7 linked regions of the Homo sapiens genome follow. The protein of the gene in region 1 purifies or fractionates together with the protein of each later gene. This does not show direct contact. Each region holds a gene or a part of one and is shown in the gene's direction. Other genes may lie near its edges. The genes, in order: DNAJC7, DNAJA2, WDR35, IFT172, TANGO6, WDR19 and GREB1.

Region 1 (3,500 bases):
ATGCCAGGGGATGGGAAGAGAAGAGAAAAATCGCTTTGTTTTATTTTTTGGGATGGAGTCTCGCTATGTCGCTCGGGATGGAGTCTCGCTATGTCGCTCAGGCTGGAGTGCAGTAGCACCGTACTGGCTCACTGCAACCTCCACCTCCTGAGTTCAAGCGAATTTCCTGCTTCAGCCTCCGAAGTAGCTGAGATTACCGGCGCATGTCACCACACCCAGCAAATTTTTGTATTTTTATTGGAGATGGGGTTTCATCATGTTGGCCAGGCTGTTCTCAAACTCCTGATGACAAGTGATCTGCCTGTCTTGGCCTCCCAAAGTTCTGGAATTACCAGCAGGTGTGAGCCACCGCGCCCGGCCTTTTTTTTTTTTTTTTTTTTTTTTTTTTTTTTAAGCAAGCCCCCAACACCATAGAAAATTCTTGATTTGCTCGGAGGATAATTGGATGAAGGATTATTTTCTTCTTTGTTTATGTGCAAGAAATGAAAATAAGGAATTGCTTTGATCAGACAACTTCTTATCTTTGTGGTAGAAACAGAACTGCCCTTCTTGGAGTGGCTCTGCCTCTGAGATCACTACAGGGGAGACAGCATGCCCTGTTCAGCTGGCTGAATATTTGGCAACAATCTCCTGAAGCAGCTGGAATTGACAAGAAGTACTGGAGATTAGCTCGGGCCAAACCCTTACATCTGGCCTGACTACTGCTGCAGTCTGCCTCAACTTACCCCTAAAGCTGGGGAGATGCCACCCACCCACATCTTTGCTACACATGCCATCATGAGCTAGAGTTCACCCTTTCTCCTTAAAGCCCTATTTACTTTTCTACTTCAACTTTAAAACAAAATTAAAATGTGAGGATATCCCTGAATTTTAAAAAGCATGAAGTAAAAATGCAAATTAGTATAGTTTGTTTAATACATTACATATAGACCTAAAGAAAGTTCATCAGGGTTAATCATTTGTCACATCATTCTATACCCAGGGCTATCAGCTATCAATTTTCCTTTTTTTTTTTTTTTTAATTCAGGATCCAGCTCTGTCACCCAGGCTGGAGTGCAGTATCAAAGTATCATTTCTCTTACTTCAAATTATTACATTTTATTCTGTACATTGATTCTGAACTCCTAATATAATATTTATGTCCTGTATTTGCAGGCCATTGGTTTTTTTAAAGTCATAAATCAAAATGATGCCAGAAAATCAAAGATGCCCAAGATGTTGGGCTTCTCTTTTGCCAGCCACATTGGTAGCACTCTCCTGCCCTGGCCTCCAAGCTGGTGGGGATCTGTGATGTTTGTGAAAATGGGCTTATGCCAGGCGCAGTGGCTCACGCCTATAATCCCAGCACTTTGGGAGGCCGAGGCGGGCAGATCGGTTCAGGTCAGGAGATCGAGACCAGCCTGGCCAACATGGTGAAACCCCATCTCTACTAAAAATACAAAAAATTAGCCAGGTGTGGTGGCACATGCCTGTAATCCCAGCTACTCAGGAGGCTGAGGCAGGAGAATCACTTGAAACCTGGGAGGCGGAGGTTGCAGTGAGCAGAGATCGTGCCATTACACTCCAGCCTGGGCTACAGAGTGAGACTCTGTGTCAAAAAAAAAAAAGAAAGAAAATGGGCTTGTGTGGTAGCAGGTAAGAAATTGAATCTCTGTTGTACAGCAGCTAGCTGTACTGCATGATCACTTCCCATTCCCCAGCTGACAGTGGCTGTCTCTGGAACTCCTACCACAGTCTTCAATTGGTAGGCCAGCCCTGGTGCCAGTGATTTTATCTGGGCATGGAAAATGCCACTTGCTTCTGTGGAAGAGACACTTAAAAGATCTGGCAGTCGGCCGGGTGCGGTGGCTCACGCCTATAATCCCAACACTCTGGGAGGTCAAGGCAGGCGGATCACGAGGTCAGGAGATGGAGACCATCCTGGCTAACACGGTGAAACCCTGTCTCTACTAAAAAAAAAAATAAAAAATTAGCTGGGCGAGGTGGCGGGCGCCTGTAGTCCCAGCTACTCTGGAGGCTGAGGCAGGAGAATGGCGTGAACCCAGGAGGCGGAGCTTGCAGTGATCCGAGATCACACCACTGCACTGCAGTCTGGGCAACAGAGCGAGACTCCATCTCAAAAAAAAAAAAAAAAAAAAAAGATCTCGCAATCATCCTGTCAAGCTTGATTCCTCCGATCTTGGGCCAAGGGCCCCTCCTTTCTTTTGTGCTACTGAAATAGAAGCAAACCTGTGTTTAGAGTTCCCTTTTCTGTCTCATTTACCTGCATCTCTCATTGATTGGTCTTAGTGGAGGGATTTGCCAGCAGCTGCCACGTTGAACTTGATCCTTTTAGTGGCTCACTAATCCCACCTCTATTCTGGATTGTAGCTAGTCCTGCATGTTTATGGCACTATAGGTTTCAAAGCTCTTTCATACCCATTTATTCACTTGATAATTTTTCTCTTGTGTGTTTCAACCCAAAGTAATCAAGTAGATCCCTTCACATTGTCTTTTCTAAGGCAGTCCAGTACCTCTTAGGTGGCTGTGTGTCAGAAGGAACTTTTTCCTCTTGATTACTTTCTGCTCAAAGCTGAACATCACTTTGCTGGTTGGATGCAAGTGCCATGCGACCTCTCTTTTTATTTCCTTGAGGACTTGTTAGCTAATTTTCTCTCACTGCTAGATTAAGGGCTCCTGTTTCTGAAGCATCTTACCAGAAGTGTGTGTCTCTTGCTTGAGCCATGCCTCTTGCCCTAGAGTGATCCTGAGAACCACTGCTATTTATGTCTTAGTGCTGTATTGCCTTGTATTTCCTTCTCAGTTACATGGACACAGAACAGTATGAAGAAGCAGTACGAGACTATGAAAAAGTATACCAGACAGAGAAAACAAAAGGTAAGTTTAAAAGCATTTGTTTTTTAGGGAACTGTGTGGACTTCGTAGGCCATAAATCTGTACACAAGGTAGTTTGATTCAGGGATCAGGGATCTACCTAGAACTTATTTGATCACCAGCCAGAAAGAAGTGAACAAAGGCTGGGCGTGGTGGCTCACGCCTGTAATCCCCAGCACTTTGGGAGGCTGAGGCAGGCAGATCACCTGAGATCAGGAGTTGGAGACCAGACTGGCCAACATGGTGAAACCCCATCTCTACTGAAAATACAAAAAATTGTGGGTATGGTGGTATACGCCTGTAATCCCAGCCACTCAGGAGGCTGGGGCACGAGAATTCCTTGAACCCAGGAGGCGGAGGTTGCAGTGAGCTAAGATTGCGCGACTATACTCCAGCCTGGGTGACGGAGCGAGACTTCATCTCAAAAACAAAAACAAAAAAAAGAAAAAAAAAGTGAACAGATATCTTGGGTTGGGGCATGAGGCACCTATTTTCTGGTTCCAGATCCTCCCTGTCGTTTTCATTTCATTTTTTGTGTGGTGAGGCTAAAGTGAGGAACCTAAGTCTGGGTAGATTTTCTTTTTTCTTTTTCTTTTTTTTTTTTTTAAGATGGAGTCCTGCTCTGT
Region 2 (3,500 bases), on another chromosome or scaffold:
TTCGAGGGAGCAGTGATCTGTGATCATACCAGTGCACTTCAGCCAGGGTGACAGAACAAGACCCTGTTGCAAAAAATAAAAGATAAAAGTGTGAAAGTAATTACTCCATTATGCCTAAGCCCAGTGAACATAGAGAAACAGTAGATTTGTATTGTGTTAGTGAAAGGTGACTCTTTTTAATTCAGAAAAGAGGAGCAAGGTGATTATTTGTCCCTTTGCTATTTCCTTCTTTATCAAATATAACCTTTTATTTACTCTCTCTGTAGGAATGACCACCATAGGAGGACTATCTCCTTTATCACATAGAACCTTTTAAACTACAAAGGGACAAATAATCAAATAATAAATAACTAAACAAGTAGTTGTTTAGTTATTCTGATAAGTGGAAGATTTCACTGTAACCTTTAGTTAGCTTTTCAGAATTGATCTTGAGATTGAAGCTGTCCTTACAGAAGTAAATAATTTAGTCTTTGTGGGCCAAATAGTTTTTGTCACAACTACTCATCTCTGACCTTTTAGTGCTTTTATGGCCACAGACACATGGATATGGCTGTGTTCTGATTAAAATTTTAATTATAAAAACACATAGCTCCTCCCACCCCTGCCATTCTAGAGCAGTGCTATCCAATAGAATTTTTTTCTGTGATGATGGAAATGTTCTGTATCTGCAGTGTCCAGTACAGTAGCCATTAATCACCTGTGACTACTGCATATTTCACATGTGGCTAGTGTGACTGGAGAACTATTTTAAATTTGAATTAATTTAAACATAAACAAGTAGCTACAGGTTGATAGTGGCTACCATATTTGACAGTATAGTTCAATAGCATCCTTTTCCAAATTGCTATTGGAAGTGATGAGATAATTATGAGAAGTTACATATGATATTTCCTTCCTGGAGAGTCTTGGCATTTTACTTTATTTTTTTAAATTATTATTATTTTTGGAGATAGGGTCTTGCTGTCGCCTGGGCTGGAGTGCAGTGGCACACTCTCGGCTCACCGCAGCCTCCACCGCCCACGCTGAAGCAATCCTTCCACCTCAGCCCCTCGCCCCACAATTAGCTGAGACCATAGGTGCTTGCCACCACGCCCAGCTAATTTTTGTATTTCTTGTAGAGATGGGGTTTTGCCACGTTGCCCAGGCTGGTCTCGAACTCCTGGGTTCAAGTAATTCTCCTGCCCCAGCCTCCCAAAGGGCTGGGATTACAGGTGTTAGCCACCACTCTTGGCCTGCTTTTATTTTATTATAATTGCTAACTCCCACTATCAAGAAACCAAAGTTAACTGAAATCTTTCTCATGTACCATTACATTTTTCTTTTTTCTTTTTTTTTTTTTTTTGTGAGACGGAGTCTTGCTCTGTTGCCCAGGCTAGAGTGCAGTTGCGTGATCTCAGCTCACCGAAGCCTCTGCCTCCCTGGTTCAAGTGATTCTGCTGCCTCGGCCTCCTGAGTAGCTGGGATTACAGGCGCCTGCCACCACGCCCGGCTGATTTTTGTATTTTCAGTGGAGACGGGGTTTTGCCGTGTTGGCCAGGCTGGTCTCAAACTCCTGACCTCAGGTGATCCTCCCGCCTTCGCCTCCCAAAGGGCTGGGATTACAGGTGTGAGCCACCATGCCCGGCCACTATTACCATTTTGAAGAACGTGTTTTGCAGAACATACTTTGCACAAGTACTGTTACAGAAACAGTCCCTAAATAATCAGTTATACACTTCTTTCTAAGCCTTCAAATGTGCTGGTAATTAGCCATTAGAAAGTGACGCAGTTTTTTCACACTATAATATGTATAATCACGGTTTTGCTTTTTAATACCATAATTATAAGAGAAAAGCTGTGTTGCCCTAAACATGGTATGGATACATTACATTCTGAAATAGTGGGAAGCTGAGTCCTTCAGGCAGTCTGCAGTAGTAAGATGTAAGTTTTTGTTATTCAGAATAGTGCTTTTTTTTGTTTTGTTTTGAGACATGGCCTCACACTGTCACCCAGACTGGGGTGCAGTGGCATGATTATAACTAACTGCAGCCTCGAACTCCAGCAGTCCTCCCTCCTCAGCCTCCCCAGTAGCCAGGATTACAGGTGTGCACTACCACGCCGGCTAACTTTTTTTATTTGTAGTAGAGGCAAGGTCTCACTGTGTTGCTAGGCTGGTCTCAGATCCTGAGCTCAAGTGATCCTACCACCCTGACCTCGCAAAATGCTGGGATTGCAGGCTTGAGCCACTGTGCTTGGCCTCAGAATGCTGCTTTGAATAAAAATTTAGGTAGTGATTAAAAGAAGTCCAGAAAGCATATTTAAAGAATAAGGGTATTAAGAGTACAGTATAGTACTCTTGCTGAAAGTTTCAATGACTTCTCTTTCCAGGAGAGGTAATTAATGAAAAAGACCGCTGTAAAAAATGTGAAGGGAAGAAGGTGATTAAAGAAGTCAAGATTCTTGAAGTCCACGTAGACAAAGGCATGAAACATGGACAGAGAATTACATTCACTGGGGAAGCAGACCAGGCCCCAGGAGTGGAACCCGGAGACATTGTTCTTTTGCTACAGGAGAAAGAACATGAGGTGATTTTCCTTTTTTTAGTTTTTTGTATTTTGTTTTATTCAGAAGTACTTCTTGCTTGTGAGAAATAGGTTAGATCTGTTTGGAGTCCCTGGAGCAACACTGAACACTGGTGAAGTTAAGGGCATCATGGTGAGTTCCTAAGACGGGCTTGTGTAAGAAAGACTAACAAGGCAGGTGCAGTTAGAAGCACTGTAAGAGTCAGTTTTAGTCCTGGCTTGGTTTCTTCCCCCTGCCCCTCAGTTGGAGTTTCACTCTTGTTGCCCAGGCTGGAGTGCAATGGTGCGATCTCGGCTCACTACAACCTCTGCCTCCCGGGTTCAAGTGATTCTCCTGCCTCAGCCTCCCGAGTAGTTGGGACTACAGGCATGCTTCTTCACTCCTGGCTAATTTTTATTTTTAGTAGAGACAGGCTTTCTCCATGTTGGTCAGGCTGGTCTCAAGCTCCCAACCTCAGGTGATCTGCCTGCCTCAGCCTCCCAAAGTGCTGGGATTAAAAGCGGGAGCCACCGCGCCTGGCCTTGGTCTTTTTTGTGTGTGTGTGACGGAGTCTTGCTTTGTTACCCAGGCTGGAATGCAGTGGCACGATCTTGGCTCACTGCAGCCTCCACCTCCCAGGTTCAAGCGATTCTCCTCTGGCCTGGTCATTGACTAACACTTTAACCATAGGTAATCTTACTGTCTCAGTTTCTTTGTTTATGAAAATAAGGGCACTGGGTGTTGGACCAGTTGATCTAAGGCAGCCTGTATTTTCACTGTGAAACTCTGCTGCTCTGTCGATTTGGTTTTTACTTATTGGGTACCCAAGTGAGCTATCCTTGAAAGGGTTCTGGGATTTTTTTTAAAAAAAATATTTTTTTAGAAGCTTCTGAAGAATGTGGTCACTAGTGTATGTTTTGGGGGGTTTTTGTTTTTGAGATGGTCTTGCTCTGTCGCCC
Region 3 (3,500 bases), on another chromosome or scaffold:
CTTAAGATCTTCATAACATTTGTATTTTAAATGAAAATTTTAAATGCTATGTTTTATGTGTAACAGATTTCTAAGCCAAGATTAATTTATTGAGATGACATTTTAATATTCTCTGTAGGATGGTTAGTAAATTTTTAAGACGTCTTTAGAGGTTTTCATTGCACTTTGGATAAAATCTAAAATTCTTATCATTTTCTACAAATACTTCATAGTTTTTCTTGTGCCTATCACTCCAGCCTTGTTTGATGCAATTTTCTCCCCTGTTCATCCACATAGGCCTTCTTAGAGTTTGTCAAGGGCTCTAGTTGTCTACCTCAGAGCCTTTATGTTGCTGTGTCCTAGCCTGGAATACTCCCCTTCTTTCTCTACCTTTCCTGGCTATCTCCAGTTTACCTCTCAGTCTCAGCTTAAATATCAGTTCTTCTGATAGCCTTCCCTGGTTCCCCATCAATCTAAATTAAGTCACTTCTGCTACTCTTTCTTATTATGCTTTCACATTCCCAGTTTATAGTTACATTTATGTGTATGTGAGTATATATTTAATATTGGTCCCTTAGACTGAAAGCTCTGAGAAGAAAGGGGAAATGACTGTTTTGTTCACCATTTTATATGTAGAACCTTTTGTAATGCATAGCACAGTGTACACATTTCATAAATATTTGTTAAATGAATGAATAAATGAGTGAATATAAGATTCTGTGTAATCTAGTAAAAACCCATTTTCAAAGTCTATGCTCTTTTGATCCCTTGTAAGCTGTAGAGTTTTCAATCTGTAGGCCATAAATATTTCTATTTGTGGTCTTTTGGAAAGGAATAAAAAGCAGTGATGATTATTAATATATGTAATGTATGAGTAAACAATCTTCATTTATATATTTTGCTTTATTTTACCAGAATATCTTTGCAAGGGGTATGTGTTATTGTTCATGTTTATACCATGAGAAAAATATATCAGAATGGGGCATACTTAGAAAAATGATTAATACTGCCCAGGAATACAAAAAGAGTCAAAATCTTATAATATGTCACTTTTACATATTTATCATAGTAGTTTGTTTTGTTTTGTTTTAGATGATGCAAAATTGAGGGGCCTTGCAGCCCCCAGTAACCTTTCTATGAATCAGACTCTTGAAGGTCATAGTGGTGAGTCATTCAATTTCTTTTAAGTCATGTTTGAGTGGTATTTAGGCATTTAGAAAGTTTCTACTTAATGCAGAAATGTCAACATTTTAAATAATGGTAATATTTACAGTACAGATGCTCTTTGAGTTACGATGGGGATATGTTCCAATAAACCCATTGTAAGTTGAAAATGCATTTAATACACCTAACCTACTGAACATCGTAGCTCTGCCTAGCTTACCTTAAATATGCCCAGAAAACACTAGCCTACAGTTGGGCACAATCATCTGACATAAAGCCTATTTTATACTAAAATGTTGAATATCTTATGTAACTTATTGATTTCTGTACTAAAAGTGAAAAACAGAATGGTTGTATGGGCACTCGAAGTACGGTTTCTACTGAATGTGCATTGCATTCCCATCACCGAAAAGTCATTTAAGTAGTACCATTGTAAGTTGGGAGCTGTTTGTAATCATTTCTGTTGAGACATAAGTAATACAACTTAGAGTCATTCAACTTTTACATGATTAAACAACATCTTAAATAAATCTAGAAGAAAATAGCTGTTTTTAATATATTGAAAATACTCCTGTCTATGGATGTTGTATATATAATCCTTTTTAGAATCTGTCCTATGATTCCAGATTAAAGGAGACTGAAGAGACTGGGTGTAGTGGCTAACACCTATAGTTCAAGCACTTTGGGAGGCCAAGGTGGGAAGACTGCATGAGGCTGGGATTTTGGAACCACCCTGGGCAACATAATGAGACCCTGTTTCTACAAAAAATAAAAAAAATTAACCAGGCGTGGTGCTGTGTGCCCGTAGTCCCCAGTACTCAGGAGGCTGAGGTGGGAGGATCGCTTGAGCTCATGAGTTGGAGGCTGCAGTGAGCCATGATTGTGCCACTGCATTCCAGCCTTGGTGACAGTGCAAGATCCTGTCTCAAGAAAAAAAAAGACTAAAGACTGAAGATGTATAACAACTAAATGCACTGTATAATCCTAGATTGGATCTTGGAATGAGAAGAACAAGTGTCTATAAAGGACATTATTTGGACAATTGGTAAAATTTGTATATGGACTGTGAGTTAGATAATAGTATATCAGTGTTAAACTTCCTAATTTGTAATATGATTATGGAAGAGAATGTCTTTATTTTTAGGAAATGTACACTAAAGTATTTAGGGATTAAAAAATTAAAAGTCATCAATTATTCACGTACCCTAGAGGTTTAAGATATGCTCAAGAGTGTTTTACTAATAGAATGGAAAACGAGTGAGAGGTGGGCAGAAGAGAGATTATAGGACATATCTACCAAAAATGATAAAAGTCCCCTAAACAAGTACTTGTTATGGTGTCCTTTGAACATCATTATTTTTGGGAGTCAGGCCAATTGAGTAAACCATGCTTGTATTTGTTTCTGTCATCAGGTATATGGTAGTTCTGGTAGCTAGCCATGATTGGTGTCTTTACTGGGATGAAATAGGGATAGATATGAAAAATAGTATTATGCATTGTTGTAGAAAATTAGTGATATCAATAACTGCATCTTATGAATAGGTTTTGAGGAATATTAAAGACTAGTTAGCTGTACAGGAACCATATTGATTTTAACATGATCTTGGTGTTTATATAAAAATGTGAATTTGAAATTAATTGTAACCTTTAAGTTTCTAAATTGTTTTATAATGTTCTAGGTTCTGTTCAAGTTGTAACATGGAATGAGCAGTATCAGAAGTTGACTACCAGTGATGAAAACGGGCTTATCATTGTGTGGATGTTATATAAAGGTATACTTTACTAGGAGAGATTATTTAATTTTTCACAAGTTGGCATCTGGATCACAGTATTTGGATGGGTAAATAACATCTCCAAAATAGACCCCTTTTACTAACAACAGGAGTTCATCCTGACTGCACAGTGATAATATTTCTGGATTTATTGCTGCCTACTTTTCACTTTTTTAAAACTTTAACCCTGTTATTAAGAAAGTGAATTAGGTGACTGTTGGCCATCTCCAAAATGAACTTAGACTCTTAGCAGAAGAATAGCTTCTACTTGAGATAAGTCTTTTTTTTTTTCCAGATTTCCAATAAGAATTACTTCTAGGTAGTTCCAGTTTATAATTACATTCATGTGTGTGTGAGTGTGTATTTAATATTGGTTCCTCAGTAGACTGTAAGCTCTGAGGGGAAAGGGGAAATGACTGTTTGTTCATTTTATACGTAGAACCTTTTATAATACATAGCACAGTGTACATGTTCAATAAATATTTGTTGAATGAATGAATAAATGAGTGGCTAGAGTTATCTCAGTAGATAAAAACACATTTAGTAAGAAGTCAAAGGGAATAATTCACTTCCTGCATGGGCCAG
Region 4 (3,500 bases), on another chromosome or scaffold:
CCTATAGTCCCAGCTACTCGGGAGGCTGAGGCAGGAGAATGGCATGAACCTGGGAGGCAGAGCTTGCAGTGAGCCGAGATCATGCTACTGCACTCCAGCCTTGGGCAACAGAGCAAGACTCTGTCTCAAAAATAAATAAATAAAATTAAAAAAATAAAAATAAATAAAAATAAAAATCTGCCACTGTCCCCCAGCCCTTGCACACACACACATACCCATTTCTACACACAAAGCCTGTTTCTCCTCCCTTTGGCCCCACTTCCAGTGACTTTCTCTTCTAGCTATGCCCTTCTCAGATCCCCTTCTTCCCTCTACCTCTAGAACTTCAATATCTACAAAAGGATCTTCACTGACATGGTGAGCTCTCCTGGAACCAACTGTGCCGAGGCCTATCATAGCTGGGCTGATCTTCGAGATGTCCTCTTCAACCTGGTGAGGAAGCGAAAGGGCTGCTCCGTCTGTCCTTGTCCTCATCTCTTCTTTGATGCACATAAACCTTTATTCTCAGATGTATTTTACCTTCCTCTGCCAGGTGGCTATCAGAGACCACTCTATGGCCCTGGCACTCCTCTGACCCCTGAGCCAGGCTGTGCTGTCTCCCTCCTCTAGTGTGAAAACCTGGTGAAGTCCAGTGAGGCAAACTCTCCAGCCCATGAGGAGTTCAAGACGATGCTGCTGATCGCTCATTACTATGCCACGCGCTCTGCAGCCCAGAGTGTCAAACAGCTGGTGAGATGTAGGGGGTCGAAGGAACACTCAGTCAGAAGGGCTCATCTGCAAATGTATAAAGCTGAATTGATTCACGTTCTGGATTCTTCAGCTTGGGCTCTTGAATCTCCCCACCTGTCTTTCAGCTTCTCTTCTGTCTAAACAAATCTTTAGCCCTTGCTGAGGTTTTCTTCTTCCGACCTTTTTAGGGCTCTGTGCCCACACAGCCTCAGCCTCATTATGTTTAAACATCCAAATCCCATGATTTCTTTATTCACCTCTTATAATGTACACATATTCTGGGCTTATTTTTGACTGTTCACTGTATATTTATTTCATGTACTTGGATGATAGAATTCTAGAAGTGGAAAGAACCTTAGAAACAATCTAGGTGGGTGGGTGTGGTGGCTCACCCCTGTAATCCCAGCACTTTGGGAGGCCGAGGCGGGTGGATCACTTGAGGCCAGGAGTTCGAGACCAGCCTGGCCAACGTGGTGAAACCCCATCTCTACTAAAAACATAAAAATTAGCCAGGTTGGCCGGGCGCGGTGGCTCACGCCTGTAATCCCAGCACTTTGGGAGGCCGAGGCGGGTGGATCATGAGGTCAGGAGATCGAGACCATCCTGGCTAACAAGGTGAAACCCCGTCTCTACTAAAAATACAAAAAATTAGCCAGGCACGGTGGCGGGCGCCTGTAGTCCCAGCTACTCGGGAGGCTGAGGCAGGAGAATGGCGTGAACCCGGGAAGCGGAGCTTGCAGTGAGCCGAGATTGCGCCACTGCAGTCCGCAGTCTGGCCTGGGCGACAGAGCGAGACTCCGTCTCAAAAAAAAAAAAAAAAAAAAAAAAAAAAAATTAGCCAGGCATGGTAATGTGCGCTTGTAGTCCTAGCTACTCAGGAGGCTGAGGCACGAGAATTACTTGAATCCGGGAGGCAGAGGTTGCAGTGAGCTGAGATGGCACCACTGCACTCCAGCCTGGGCGAAAGAATTGAACCTAGGCCCAGGTGTCTTGTTCAGAGAAAAAGAAAAAAAAAACTAAGACCCAGAACAGCTTGAGAATCCAGAGCAGTTTAATAATAATTGTTGTTTTTTAGTTCTGTGGCTGCCTTACAGGATCATTGGTCTGGTAGCTCAGTCACTTTAGTGCCATATTCATAATGCTTTGACTTTAATCCCAGGAAACCGTGGCTGCCAGGCTTTCTGTTTCACTCTTGCGTCACACCCAGCTACTACCTGTAGACAAAGCCTTCTATGAAGCAGGCATTGCTGCCAAGGTGAGCTGGGACAAGGAAGGGTGGGGCAGATAGGAGGAAGTTAAAGGTTGGAAAATAGAATATCCCTTCTGCTCTGGTAGAGGAAAGCTGAGTGTAGGGCTGATGTTACGGAGGATGTAGTCCTCCTATGTCTTCCTGGATTTTTCTCCCTGGATCCCAGAGAAATAGCATTCAAGCCCAGCTTGCTCACTCCCATTTGCATCTGGATCCCAGAGAAGTAGCATTCAAACCCAGCTTGTTCACTCCCATTTGCAACTCTTCTTTGCTGCAGGCAGTTGGCTGGGATAACATGGCATTCATCTTCCTCAATCGCTTTTTGGACCTGACCGATGTGAGTAGGGAAGCTGTGCCCCGAGGGTGGAGGTTTTTGCCAGTCGCGAGCTGTGCCTAGTTCATGGTTGCCCACTCTACTGCAGGCAATCGAGGAAGGGACTCTAGATGGCCTTGACCACTCTGATTTTCAGGATACAGACATTCCCTTTGAGGTGCCACTCCCAGCTAAGCAGCATGTACCGGTAAGGGCACAGGGTTGGAAAACCGGAAGGCCTCACCAGTGTGAGTGCCTTGAGGAGGGAGAATATCTTTGTGCTGCCATCTTTGGAAGGACCTCAGCCCTCACTGTTTTTTCAGTGAAAGTAGAAGCAAAATAGAAAGAAAAGGCTGTGACTGCATCCCCCAATCCAAGGAGGATTCGTGGCTAAAAGCTGGTATACAGGATGAGGGCTTAGCAAACCCCCTCCTCACCCATCCACCCCAACTTGTCCTGCCCTGCCCTGTGTGAAGCTACCACTCCCTTCTTGTCCTTTCCAGGAGGCTGAGAGAGAAGAGGTTCGAGACTGGGTGCTTACAGTCTCCATGGACCAGCGGCTGGAGCAGGTTCTGCCTCGGGATGAGCGTGGCGCCTACGAGGCCTCCCTAGTGGCAGCGAGCACTGGTGTTCGAGCCCTGCCCTGCCTTATTACAGGTATAGAAGCCTACAGCACCCCAGATCCTGTGGTGGGTAGAAAGCAGCAGGATCAATAAACTTAATTTTACTAGGATTCAGTAAAGGGTACAAAAGACAGGACTGTGCTTTCTACCCCCCAGGCTGCTCCTCATTTTTCCCTCCTCAATCTCTCTCAAACCCCAGTTCATCATTTTTTCTTCCTCCACAGGATACCCCATTCTGAGGAACAAAATTGAATTTAAGCGGCCAGGGAAGGCTGCTAACAAGGACAACTGGAATAAATTCCTTATGGCCATCAAGGTTAGAGAGGAGGACTTGGAGAATGAAGGCAGAGAGGGCAGCACTAAAAAAAGAAAAAAAAACAAGTCTGGGTGCAGTGGCTCATACCTTTAATCCCAGCACTTTGGGAGGCCAAGGTGGGCGGATCACCTGAGGTCAGGAGTTTGAGACCAGCCTGGCCAACATGGTTAAAACCTCGTCTCTACTAAAAATACAAAAGTTAGCCGGGTCTGGTGGCGTGCACCTGTAATCCCAGCTACTCAGGAGGCTGAGGCAGGAGAATCGCTTAAA
Region 5 (3,500 bases), on another chromosome or scaffold:
TTCACCGAGCCCAATTTGGGTGCTCTATAGAACTGCTTGGGAAAATTCCCATTATTTCAAGCTGTTATATAGAACTCCAAAGAGCAGACAATCCTTCTTAATTGCTGTTGCTTTCAAGCAGCCTCATTTAGAGATGTCTTACTTTCTGCCATATTTAATAAACCTGCCACAGTAGGTACTTAATTAACAGTTTTTGAATGGATGGATAAATGGAAGGAAGAAAGAATAAAAGGAAGAAAGGAAAGGTGATGTCTAATGAAGGAGGCATGATTTGTTTTGTTTTGTTTTGTTTTGTTTTGTTTTGTTTTGTTTTTTCAAAAGGGCATGAGCTCAAAAAGTTGAAAAACACTGCCCTCACCCATAGTGAGCAACCTCCAGATCTGGGCACACCCATGGGAGTGTTGTGAATGTTAGTCATGTGTTATCAGGGGCAAAGGAGAGCCATGCTTCTTGTTTTCACAGGCTTTCACTTGATTATCCTCTAGGTAATCCAGTCTTTTATCAGAATTTCCCTAGAGTGGAGAGGCATCCTTCAACTGCTTGTATGCAGGTGATCAAACTGGCTAAAAAAGCCCTTACTTGCAAACCACAGTGCCTCCAATTTTACAACTTAAAAAGAAAATGACTTTCCAGTTAACTAAGCTGACTAGTTCTCTCTAATTCTTTTGCTTTTGAGATTAAACCATCTATTTCTGGAATTGTCTTCATTGTGCTCATTTATACACATCGTTAAAGATTTTCAGAGCTTTGGCCAGGTGCCAGTGGCTCACGCCTATAATCCCAGTGCTTTGGGAGGCCGAGGCAGGAGGATCACCTGAGGTCAGGAGTTCCAGACCAGATCAGCTACTCGGGAGGCTGAGGCAGGAGAATTGCTTGAACCCAAGAGGCAGAAGTTGCAGTGAGCTGAGATCACACCATTGCACTCCAGCCTGGGCAACAAGAGTGAAACTCCCTCTCAAAAAAAAAAGGCTCCTCAGCTGGGCACGGTGGCTCATGCCTGTAATCCCAGCACTTTGGGAGGCTGAGGTGGGAAGATCACCTGAGGTCAGGAGTTCGAGACCAGCCTGGCCAAAATGGCAAAACCCCATCTCTACTAAAAATATAAAAAAATTAGCCGGGTATGGTGGCGGGCACCTGTCATCCCAGCTACTTGAAAGGCTGAGGCAGGAGGATCGCTTGAACGTGGGAGGCGGAGGATGCAGTGAGCTGAGATCATGCCATTGCACTCCAGCCTGGGTGACAAGAGCAAAATTCCGTCTCAAAAAAAAGAAAACAGAAACAAACTCCTCACATAGCTGCTGCCACCCAGTGCATTTCCCTGGACAACCCCAGGGGCTAGATGTTCAATGAGTAAATACCCCCATACAGGTTGTGGGCACCTGGTTGTCCAGCCCGAGGCCAGGGATCCCAGGTCACACCCTTGATCAGGGAGGGATCAAGGTGCTTCTGCCATGCCCAGGATTGAGAACTCTGTGGATGCAAAGAGGGGTGGGTGGGAAGCCTGGTGTGGTGGCTCACGCCTGTAATCCCAGCATTTTGGGAGGCTGAGGTGGGCGGATCACATGAGGTCAGGAGTTTGAGGCCAGCCCCGGCAACATGGCAAAACCCTGACTCTACTAAAAATACAAAAATTAGCCAGGCATGGTGGCCGCACCTGGAGTCCCAGCTACTCAAGAGGCTGAGGTGGGGGAATCGCTTGAACCTGGGAGGTGGAGGTTGCAGTGAGCCAAGATTGTGCCATTGCACTCCAGCCTGAGCAATAGAGCAAGACTCTGTCTCAAAAAAAAGAAAAAATTGCAATTCCCTAATGACTTATGACATTGAGTATGTCTTCCTATGCTTATTTGCCATCTGTATATCTTCTTTGGTAGGGTATTCTTCTTTGGTAGACCTATCTGTTAAGGTCTTTTGCCCATTTTTAAGTCAGGTTGTTCATTTTCTTATTGAGTTTAAAGAGTTCTTTGTATATTTTGGATATTAGTCCTTTTTCAGATATGTCTTTTACAAATATTTTCTCTCATTCTGTAGTTTGTCTTCTCATTCTCTTGACAGTTTCTTTTGCAGAGCAGACATTCTTAATTTTAATAAGGTCCAGGTTTTTAACTATTTCTTTCATAGATCATGCCTTTGCTGTTGTATTTAAAAGGTCATTGCTTTTAAGAGGTCATCTCAATTTTCTACTATGTTAACTTGTAGGAGTTTTATAGTTTTGTATTTGACAGTTAGGTTTATGATCCATTTCAAGTTAATTTTTGTGCAAGGTGCAAGGTCTGTGTCTAGATTCATTTTTTCACATGTGCATGCCAGTTGTTCCAGCACCATTTGTTGAAAAAACTGTCTTTTCTACTGACACTTGTTCCAATTAAAAAAAAAAAAAAGAAAAAAGAAACTGTATTTTTTTTTCCATTTAAAGCCTTTGCTCCTTTGTCAAAGTTCAGTTGACTCTATTTATCTGGGTCTATTTCTGGCCTTTCTGTTCTGTCCCATTGATCTATTTGTCTTGGCTGGTTTTTTTTTTTAGAAGAAATTGTTATATAGAAGAGAAATTAAAAAAGAGGCCAAATAGACTGTAGGTAAATTATTCTCATTTTAGATGCTTTAAAAAAGTCCATGATACAACCGAGGCACTGAATGAAGTTTAGCATAATGATAATACTAGTATAATTATTTGAAAATGTCTCGGCCGGGCACCGTGGCTCATGCCTGTAATTCCAGCACTTTGGAAGGCCAAGGTGGGCGGATCACCTGAGGTCCGGAGTTCAAGACCAGCCTGGCCAACATGGTGAAACCCCGTTTCTACTAAACTATAAAAAATTAGCCAGGCATGGTGGCGTGTGCCTGTAGTCCCAGCTACTCGGGAGGCTGAGGCAGGAGAATGGCGTGAACCCGGGAGGTGGAGGTTGCAGTGAGCCGAGATTACGCCATTGCACTCCAGCCTAGGCAGCAGAGCGAGACTCCGTTTCCAAAAAGAAAAGAAAAAAATAAAAATAAAAAGGATTTTTTTTTCTTTTTTTTGAGACAGAGTCTCGCTCTGTTGCCCAAGCTGGAGGGCAGTGGCGTGATCTCAGCTCACTGCAACCTCTGCCTCCCGGGTTTAAGCGATTCTCCTGCCTCAGCCTTCCGAGTAGCTGGGACTACAGGCACATGCCACCATGCCCAGCTGATTTTTGTATTTTTAGTAGAGGTGGGGTTTCGCCATGTTGGCCAGTAAAAAGGACTTAAGATCCTTAAGGTATTCAAATTTTCAGGGTCTCCTGAAGCCTCATCTGATAATTTCTCCAGTGTTTTCAAACAGAAAAGTATTACCATTGATTCTTACTTTTCATTGATCACACATACACCTTTTGGGTGGCAGTGGGTGAGGGGGGTGCTTTCCAGTGAAGACCAGAAAACCTGCTAGACAAATTCTAATAGAGCTGTAACACTCATGCACCTTTCTTAGTAGTAAGGCATATGACATTATTCAGACAAAGCTTCCATGGAGAATAAAATGTTATATA
Region 6 (3,500 bases), on another chromosome or scaffold:
TAAAAACAAAGAACAGATTAGTGATTCCCAGAGGTTAGAGATGGAGCTGGGGTCAGAAGGAAGGAGGTGAGTGTTTATAAAAAGGCAACATGAGAGATCCTTGTGGTCATGGAACTATCTATATCCTGACTATGGTTGTGAGTCTCATGAATCTCATGTGTGAGAAAGTTACTAAACACACACACTGAGTACAAGTAAACACACACACTAAGTACAAGTAAAACTAGGGACGTCGGAATAAGATTTGTGGTTTCTATCAATGTCAGTATCCTGATTGTGGTATTATACTATAGTGTTTCAAGATGTTACTATTGGGAGAAAAGGGGACATGGAATCTCTCTATCTCTCTATATTGCCTCTTACAACTACCTGTGAATCTGAAATTATCTTAAAAGTTTAATTAAATGAAAATAATGAGGGAAAAAAGGTAAGAGGAAAACACTGGAAGAGAAGAGAAGGAGAAAAGGAGGTTAGGAGGAAAGAAATGTTACAACTATTAGTTCCCAACATTGTACTACACAACTTTCATTTACATCAACTTACTTATTCTTACTACAACCTTATGAAATAATGTTATGCCCGCATTTTTCAGAGCTTTCAACCTGATCCTTCTGATCCAAATTTAATGTTCTTTCTATACTATAATTCACTTCCTTTTGTATGAAAGAACTCTGGGCAGGGGAGAAAGGGAACACATTGTAAAGAGAAACCTGTATCATCTTACAATAATTAATACTACTCAGGAGAATATTTTCGTACCCAAATTTCTTCAGGACAATTTTAACCTCCTTATTCCTGAAGCTATAGATCAGAGATTAAGCCAGGCACAACCCTACCCGCCCCCCATCTCTGCACACAGTAAGCAAACAAACAACAACAACAAACCCAAAAGTTTAAAGATAAAATATAATGAAGTACAGAAATTCTAATATTTTCTTAACCCAGTAGATCATTCTGTACATCACATTTTGGAGACCAGTAACCTATTCCATGGTTTGTAATTTTTTGTGAATTAAAACAGTTTTATATAAAGATCATATATATTTTTTAATAATGCATTTTTGTTTTTCAGCATTAAAATCCAAGACTTGGTTGACTTAAAAGACATGTATGTTATACTCAACCTGGATGAGGAAAATAAAGGTATTGATTTTTCTGAAGCAGATTGACATTTTATCATTCCAGTTACAGAGAGTAAGGTTGTGTTTGTTATCGTGTGATTTGCATTCGTTGTAGGAGGAATAATTTTTTTTTTTTTTTTTGAGATGGATTCTTGTTTTGTAGCCCTGGATGGAATGCAATGGCATGATCTCTGCTCACTGCAACCTCCACCTCCCAGGCTCAAGCTATTCTCCTGCCTCAGCCTCCCAAGTAGCTGGGATTACAGGCACGTGCCACCACGCCCAGCTAATTTTTGTATTTTTAGTAGAGATGGGGTTTCACCATGTTGGCCAGGCTGGTCTCGAACTGCTGACCTCAGGTGATCCGCCTGCCTTGGCCTCCCAAAGTACTGGGATTATAGGCGTGAGCCACTGTGCCTGGCCAGAAATAAATTTTAATACTCTTCACTAGAGTTCCCTAAAATAGTCTCCTTATTTTAGTAATTATGTTGTCATACTGCTTGACTAGAAAGATATGTCTACTTTGATCCAGAGATTTATAGTGAATTTTATCCTAATTCTAATGTAAAGTATAAATTCTTATATACAGTCATGACCCACATAATGACGTTTCAGTCCACATACATGGTCCATATTTACTACCTTTTCTTTGTTTCTTTCTTTCTTTCTTTCTTTCTTTTTTTTTGAGACAGCGTCTTGTTTTGTTGCTCAGGCTTACTGTACATTTTCTATATTTAGATATGATTCAATGTGCAAGTACTTACTGCTGTGTTACATTTGCCTGCAGTGTTCAGTACAGTAACATGCCATACAGGCTTATAGCCTAGGAGCAATAGGCTATACCATATAGCCTAGGTACGTAGTAGGCTATTTGATCTAGGTTTGTGTAAGTACACTCTATGATGTTCACACAACAACAAAGTCACCTAATGACAGATTTCTCAGAACATAGCCCTGTTGTTAAGTGACACATAACTGTACTTTCCCTTTGAGCCACAGGGAATGAGCCAGTGCTCATATTCTTATGCCAATCCATGGCAAATTTCCTAGTCTAAAAAAAAAACTACTTAAACTAGTAAGGAAAATATTTGAAAATTGTTATGTCTCTGGTAGCTTAAATGAAAATATTTGTTTGCTGCCTGCAACTATATATTGTTTTTGAATAATCATTTATTTTGTCGATTATTTCAGGATTGGGTACCTTGTCCTGGACTGATGATGGCCAGTTGCTAGCACTCTCTACCCAAAGGGGCTCACTTCATGTTTTCCTGACCAAGCTTCCCATACTTGGGGATGCCTGCAGCACAAGGATTGCCTATCTCACCTCCCTCCTTGAAGTCACCGTAGCCAACCCTGTTGAAGGAGTATGAAAATGGTGTTATTTTTCTTTTATTTATTAATAAAATAAGTTTAGCCGTTGATTTATTACTATTTTCTTTATTATAGGAGCTACCAATCACAGTTTCTGTTGATGTGGAACCCAACTTTGTGGCAGTAGGTCTTTATCATCTGGCTGTAGGAATGAATAATCGAGCTTGGTTTTATGTCCTTGGAGAAAATGGCAAGTCTAAATCCAGTTGTTTATTCTTATCTAGCACATAATTTCTGTTCTTATTTGGGAAGCACTGCAAGTTTCTTTTAGGACCAAGTCTTTCACTCTTTTTTATTCACATATCTCATTCTTAGCTTAAATGGTTTTGTAAGTCTTCTAAAAATTTGCATAATTTTTAGAAAGCTTTTATTCTTTACCTTTGTAGTGAAGGCAGCATAGCATAGTGGGTAGAATGTGAGCTTCAGAATTAGAGAGGCCCTGGATTTAATTTCCCCTTCTGCCTCTGTTAGCTAAGTGACTATAGACAAATCATTTTACACTTGTGAGCCTTACTCATCTGGAAAATGAGGATACTTCTACTTTTAATGGATCATGAGGAAGATTAAATAAAATGCGTGGTCTCACTTGGCACAGTGACTTTTTTTAAGCACTCTTAAACCTAGTGGGTACTTAATAAATGTTAGTTCTGTCTCCCCTTTTATTCTTTGAATAATAGCTATTAGCATGTGAGGAAAACCTTGTTTTGTTTTTTCTTCCCCTGCCTCCTCCCCATCACCTTTCCCCAATTCTAGGTCAGATAACCCTCAGGAATAGAACAAACCTGAAAATTAACCTGTTAAACAGGAAATACCATTAAGTTTCTTGCAACTTAAGGTTTAATTCTTTAATTGTTTTGCATATAATTTTATTTTCTATTACTTTGTTTCAGGTAAACCATAATGGAATGCCTGAAGGCAAATTTATATGGCAACTAAGATTAAAATGAAATTTAATCTTTAAGATTCAATTTAATTATTTAATCATTTAAGATTAAAATGAAATTTTAA
Region 7 (3,500 bases), on another chromosome or scaffold:
CTCTGGCCCCCCAAAAATCTTGAGCTGGACCAAGCAGTTGGTATTTACTAGGTGCAAACCTGTAGTATAATGTTACTGAGCATTTCATAGAAAACGGTGCCCTCTCTTGGATTTCTTCTTTTTCAGATTTCTGTTTGCTATGTGAGCTCCAGGCCCCACTCTTTAAACATCAGCTGCTCGGACTTGCTGTTCAGTGGGCTGCTGCTGTACCTCTGTGACTCTTTTGTGGGAGCTAGCTTTTTGAAAAAGTTTCATTTTCTGAAAGGTAACTTTTGTACTCTTAACTCTGCACCTTGTCTTCAATGGCTGTAGTCACCGGGTACCCTGAGGAGGGGACCTTTGGTCCTAGTCCTTATTTGCCCATGGGTAAACTGAGGATCAGAGAGGGAAGTGACTGCCTCAGCCACCCAGGGAAGTGCAAGAGAGCTGGGATTTGATCCCCGGGGGCTCTCTTTCCCCTATACCTGTTTGGGTAGAGGCAAGACACATCCCCCTTTCTTTTAGATGAATTGCGGACATTTTTTAGCCTTTGTGTTTCTTTTCTTTCTTTCTTTCTGGTTTTTGAGATGGAGTCTCGCTCTGTCACCTTGGCTGGAGTGCAGTGGCACGATCTTAGCTCACTGCAACTTCTGCCTCCTGGGTTCAAGTGATTCTCGTGCCTCAGCCTCCCGAGTATCTGGGATTACAGGTGCCCGCCACCACACCCAGCTAATTTTTTATTTTTAGTAGAGACAGGGTTTTGCCATGTTGGCCAGGCTGGTCTCGAACTCCCGACCTCAGGTGATCCACCTGCCTCGGCCTCCCAAAGTGTTGGGATTACCGGCGTGAGCCACCGCACCAGCCATGTGTGTTCTTTTCCAACCCAAATCCTTCACATCGGTGTCCCAGTCGTTGCTGACACTCTTCCTCCTGGTAGACGAGTCTTTCTCCTCATCCTGGGAGGTGCCACACCACCTTGGCTTTTACGCCAGTCTTCCTCCTGTCTGCACCAGCTTGGTTGAGAATGACAAGCACTTGTTCTGCATGACTTGAAAACACGATTTCCAGTCTGCATTTCCAGTCCTGCTCAGATCCCTAGCTGACCTTCGCTTTCCTTGGTGGCCCTTGGCTCTGACCTTCCCCTCTAGCAGGCACTGAATGAGCACCAGCAGCATCTAAGGCCTTGGGAAAGATCAAGAGGTTTTACAGCAGTCTCTGCCTTGGGAAACATTTCATCTAAAGGGAGGACTGGACACAAAGGTGGGGAGGGAGCAGAGAGGGACAGTGTGGAGGAGACTGGGTTGAGGTGTCGCCAGGTGCTGGGAGTTGAGAGGAAGGGGAATTCCTGTGGCTGGCACGTGGGACAGTGGGGGCTGCCCCAGGCCTGGATGGGTGGCAGAAGAGGGGGATGAAGCTGTAAGGTGGGGTAGGTAGGGTGGGGTATGTGAGCTACCGGCTGGGGCTGAGGATGCTTGGTTTGCGATTCCACCAGCCTCTCTCCTTCCTCTCCGCACCTCGGTTCAGTCCCTGCTCGGCTTTCCTTCTGCCTCCGTGTTTTCTCCCCCGCACACCTGCCACATCCCAGCCACACTCCTGTCTCGCTAAGATTGTACATCATCCCGAAAGAAGCAAGGGGCCGACTTGGATGCCGCTTCTGCCCTTCCCAACAGCGCCCTGTCTTGTCATTGCAAGTAGAATCCGGGCAGCCGCTTTCCTCTGGATAAACTCACCTTTTCCCTTCCCACACCTCTGCCGTTGTCCACGCAGGTGCGACGTTGTGTGTCATCTGTCAGGACCGGAGCTCACTGCGCCAGACGGTCGTCCGCCTGGAGCTCGAGGACGAGTGGCAGTTCCGGCTGCGCGATGAGTTCCAGACCGCCAATGCCAGGGAAGACCGGCCGCTCTTTTTTCTGACGGGACGACACATCTGAGGAAGACAGCGGCGAGTTTTCTGAAGAGATGAGTGCTCAGAGCCCTCATGCTGTTGAGGCTAAAGGGAGGCCTGGAACGGTGGGGCGTTTGACTGGAATGGACCCCAGGGACTGTCCAGGTGCAGCCCCTCCTAGTACACATGGGCCCCCGAGGCCGTGGTCCTGGGAGCCAGGAAGACTCCGCAGTGGGTGAGAATGAAAACTTGAGACTCCCAAGTTCTGGGCCAGCCCATTGCTCTGGGCTGTTTTAAAGCCCATTTCACGAGGAACAAAGATTTACTTCCTGTCCTGCCATTCGTGTGCTTCCATGGACAAACCTGATTTTTTTCTCTTAGTTCTAAAGAATCTTGGGTTATTTTGTAGCGGTGCCAGTATTTCAGTAGATGGGATTTCAGCCAAGTAGGTTCCCCTGTAACCTCCTACAAAGCAATATTCCAAAGGAACATTTTAACTGTAAAGGCTGGAGACAAGAAAAAATAAGTAGATCGTTTTAATAACAATTATTTAATTGCCTATAAGTTTGCTGTTTCAGAGGCTAGCCCAAAGGCATCAAATTTAATAAAGTTAAACAAATTGATTTACTTCAGAGCAAATATGATCCTATTAAAATAATATAGGGTAAATACCCTACCTCTTAGAAAGGGCAAAAATGCAAAGAAGCTTTCTTTAAAACTAAAAGGGTTTTTTGGGGGGGGAGTTGGCGGGGAGGAAATAAGGCTAACAGAGGTTGACCTAAAATTAGCCTTACAAAGGAGAAAGGACCACATTGCTTACTTGAAACAGACAATGAAAACAACCAAAGTGATATATAAAATAGTTGATGAGAACTAGACTTATGACTGTAGTTTACTAGAGTTTAGTTTTCAGTTGCTGAAGTAGCTCATTTTCTCTTACTAATGTTTGGTTCCTCAGGGAAGAATCTCACTTGACTAGAGAGGAGGTGGGAACAGAAGAGAGAAGGAGGCAGGGAGATGTATTTCTTAGGGCTCACCCCTTCACAGACTGACAGAATGGTTTTGTTTTGTTTTGTTTTGTTTTGTTTTGTTTTTGAGATGGACTCTAGCTCTGTCACCCAGGCTGGAGTGCAGTGGTGCGATCTCGGCTCACTGCAAGCTCCGCCTCCCGGGTTCTCACCATTCTCCTGCCTCAGCCTCCCGAGTAGCTGGGACTACAGGCGCCCACCACCACGCCCGGCTAATTTTTTGTATTTTTTAGTAGAGACGGGGTTTCACCATGTTAGCCAGGATGGTCTCGATCTCCTGACCTCGTGATCCGCCCGCCTCGGCCTCCCAAAGTGCTGGGATTACAGGCGTGAGCCACCGTGCCTGCCCCAGAATGGTTTTTAAAGCCACAGTTGAGAGGCCACCCATTGCCCGGCGCCTGGACAGTGATCATCTTGTTCATCTTGTTCAGTCCTTTCTTGTGTGATTGGAATTATTCATCCCCTTTGAAAGATGAGAAGGTTGAGATGCAAAGAGTCTACCTTTCCAAGTTCTCACTGCTGGAAAGAGCTAGAAGCACAGTTCAAAGTTCTGGCTTCTGGACTCTGCAGTCCAGGTCTCCCTTCTCCCACTTGCCTACCCTCAATGC

The links.
Region 2: the proteins of DNAJC7 (region 1) and DNAJA2 purify together in Homo sapiens (affinity purification with mass spectrometry; 2 studies listed by BioGRID and IntAct, with this or other methods). This does not show direct contact.
Region 3: the proteins of DNAJC7 (region 1) and WDR35 purify together in Homo sapiens (affinity purification with mass spectrometry; 2 studies listed by BioGRID and IntAct, with this or other methods). This does not show direct contact.
Region 4: the proteins of DNAJC7 (region 1) and IFT172 purify together in Homo sapiens (affinity purification with mass spectrometry; 2 studies listed by BioGRID and IntAct, with this or other methods). This does not show direct contact.
Region 5: the proteins of DNAJC7 (region 1) and TANGO6 purify together in Homo sapiens (co-immunoprecipitation; 2 studies listed by BioGRID and IntAct, with this or other methods). This does not show direct contact.
Region 6: the proteins of DNAJC7 (region 1) and WDR19 purify together in Homo sapiens (affinity purification with mass spectrometry; 2 studies listed by BioGRID and IntAct, with this or other methods). This does not show direct contact.
Region 7: the proteins of DNAJC7 (region 1) and GREB1 purify together in Homo sapiens (affinity purification with mass spectrometry; 2 studies listed by BioGRID and IntAct, with this or other methods). This does not show direct contact.

Annotation. Positions count from the first base shown.
Region 1 is NC_000017.11:41,982,940-41,986,439, reverse strand, and holds part of DNAJC7 (dnaJ homolog subfamily C member 7), read left to right. Parts: intron 1-532; exon of another isoform or gene 533-2,803; coding exon 2,804-2,877; intron 2,878-3,500. UniProt on the Homo sapiens protein: Acts as a co-chaperone regulating the molecular chaperones HSP70 and HSP90 in folding of steroid receptors, such as the glucocorticoid receptor and the progesterone receptor.
Region 2 is NC_000016.10:46,963,675-46,967,174, reverse strand, and holds part of DNAJA2 (dnaJ homolog subfamily A member 2), read left to right. Parts: intron 1-2,367; coding exon 2,368-2,564; intron 2,565-3,500. UniProt on the Homo sapiens protein: Co-chaperone of Hsc70. Stimulates ATP hydrolysis and the folding of unfolded proteins mediated by HSPA1A/B (in vitro).
Region 3 is NC_000002.12:19,980,106-19,983,605, reverse strand, and holds part of WDR35 (WD repeat-containing protein 35), read left to right. Parts: intron 1-1,071; coding exon 1,072-1,143; intron 1,144-2,822; coding exon 2,823-2,915; intron 2,916-3,500. UniProt on the Homo sapiens protein: As a component of the IFT complex A (IFT-A), a complex required for retrograde ciliary transport and entry into cilia of G protein-coupled receptors (GPCRs), it is involved in ciliogenesis and ciliary protein trafficking.
Region 4 is NC_000002.12:27,444,744-27,448,243, reverse strand, and holds part of IFT172 (intraflagellar transport protein 172 homolog), read left to right. Parts: intron 1-321; coding exon 322-432; intron 433-609; coding exon 610-729; intron 730-1,762; exon of another isoform or gene 1,763-1,888; coding exon 1,889-1,984; intron 1,985-2,255; coding exon 2,256-2,315; intron 2,316-2,400; coding exon 2,401-2,499; intron 2,500-2,794; coding exon 2,795-2,948; intron 2,949-3,138; coding exon 3,139-3,230; intron 3,231-3,500. UniProt on the Homo sapiens protein: Required for the maintenance and formation of cilia. Plays an indirect role in hedgehog (Hh) signaling, cilia being required for all activity of the hedgehog pathway.
Region 5 is NC_000016.10:68,923,531-68,927,030, forward strand, and holds part of TANGO6 (transport and Golgi organization protein 6 homolog), read left to right. Parts: intron 1-3,500.
Region 6 is NC_000004.12:39,213,529-39,217,028, forward strand, and holds part of WDR19 (WD repeat-containing protein 19), read left to right. Parts: intron 1-1,072; coding exon 1,073-1,143; intron 1,144-2,312; coding exon 2,313-2,485; intron 2,486-2,567; coding exon 2,568-2,682; intron 2,683-3,500. UniProt on the Homo sapiens protein: As component of the IFT complex A (IFT-A), a complex required for retrograde ciliary transport and entry into cilia of G protein-coupled receptors (GPCRs), it is involved in cilia function and/or assembly.
Region 7 is NC_000002.12:11,638,545-11,642,044, forward strand, and holds part of GREB1 (protein GREB1), read left to right. Parts: intron 1-126; coding exon 127-265; intron 266-1,746; coding exon 1,747-1,910; 3' UTR 1,911-3,500. UniProt on the Homo sapiens protein: May play a role in estrogen-stimulated cell proliferation. Acts as a regulator of hormone-dependent cancer growth in breast and prostate cancers.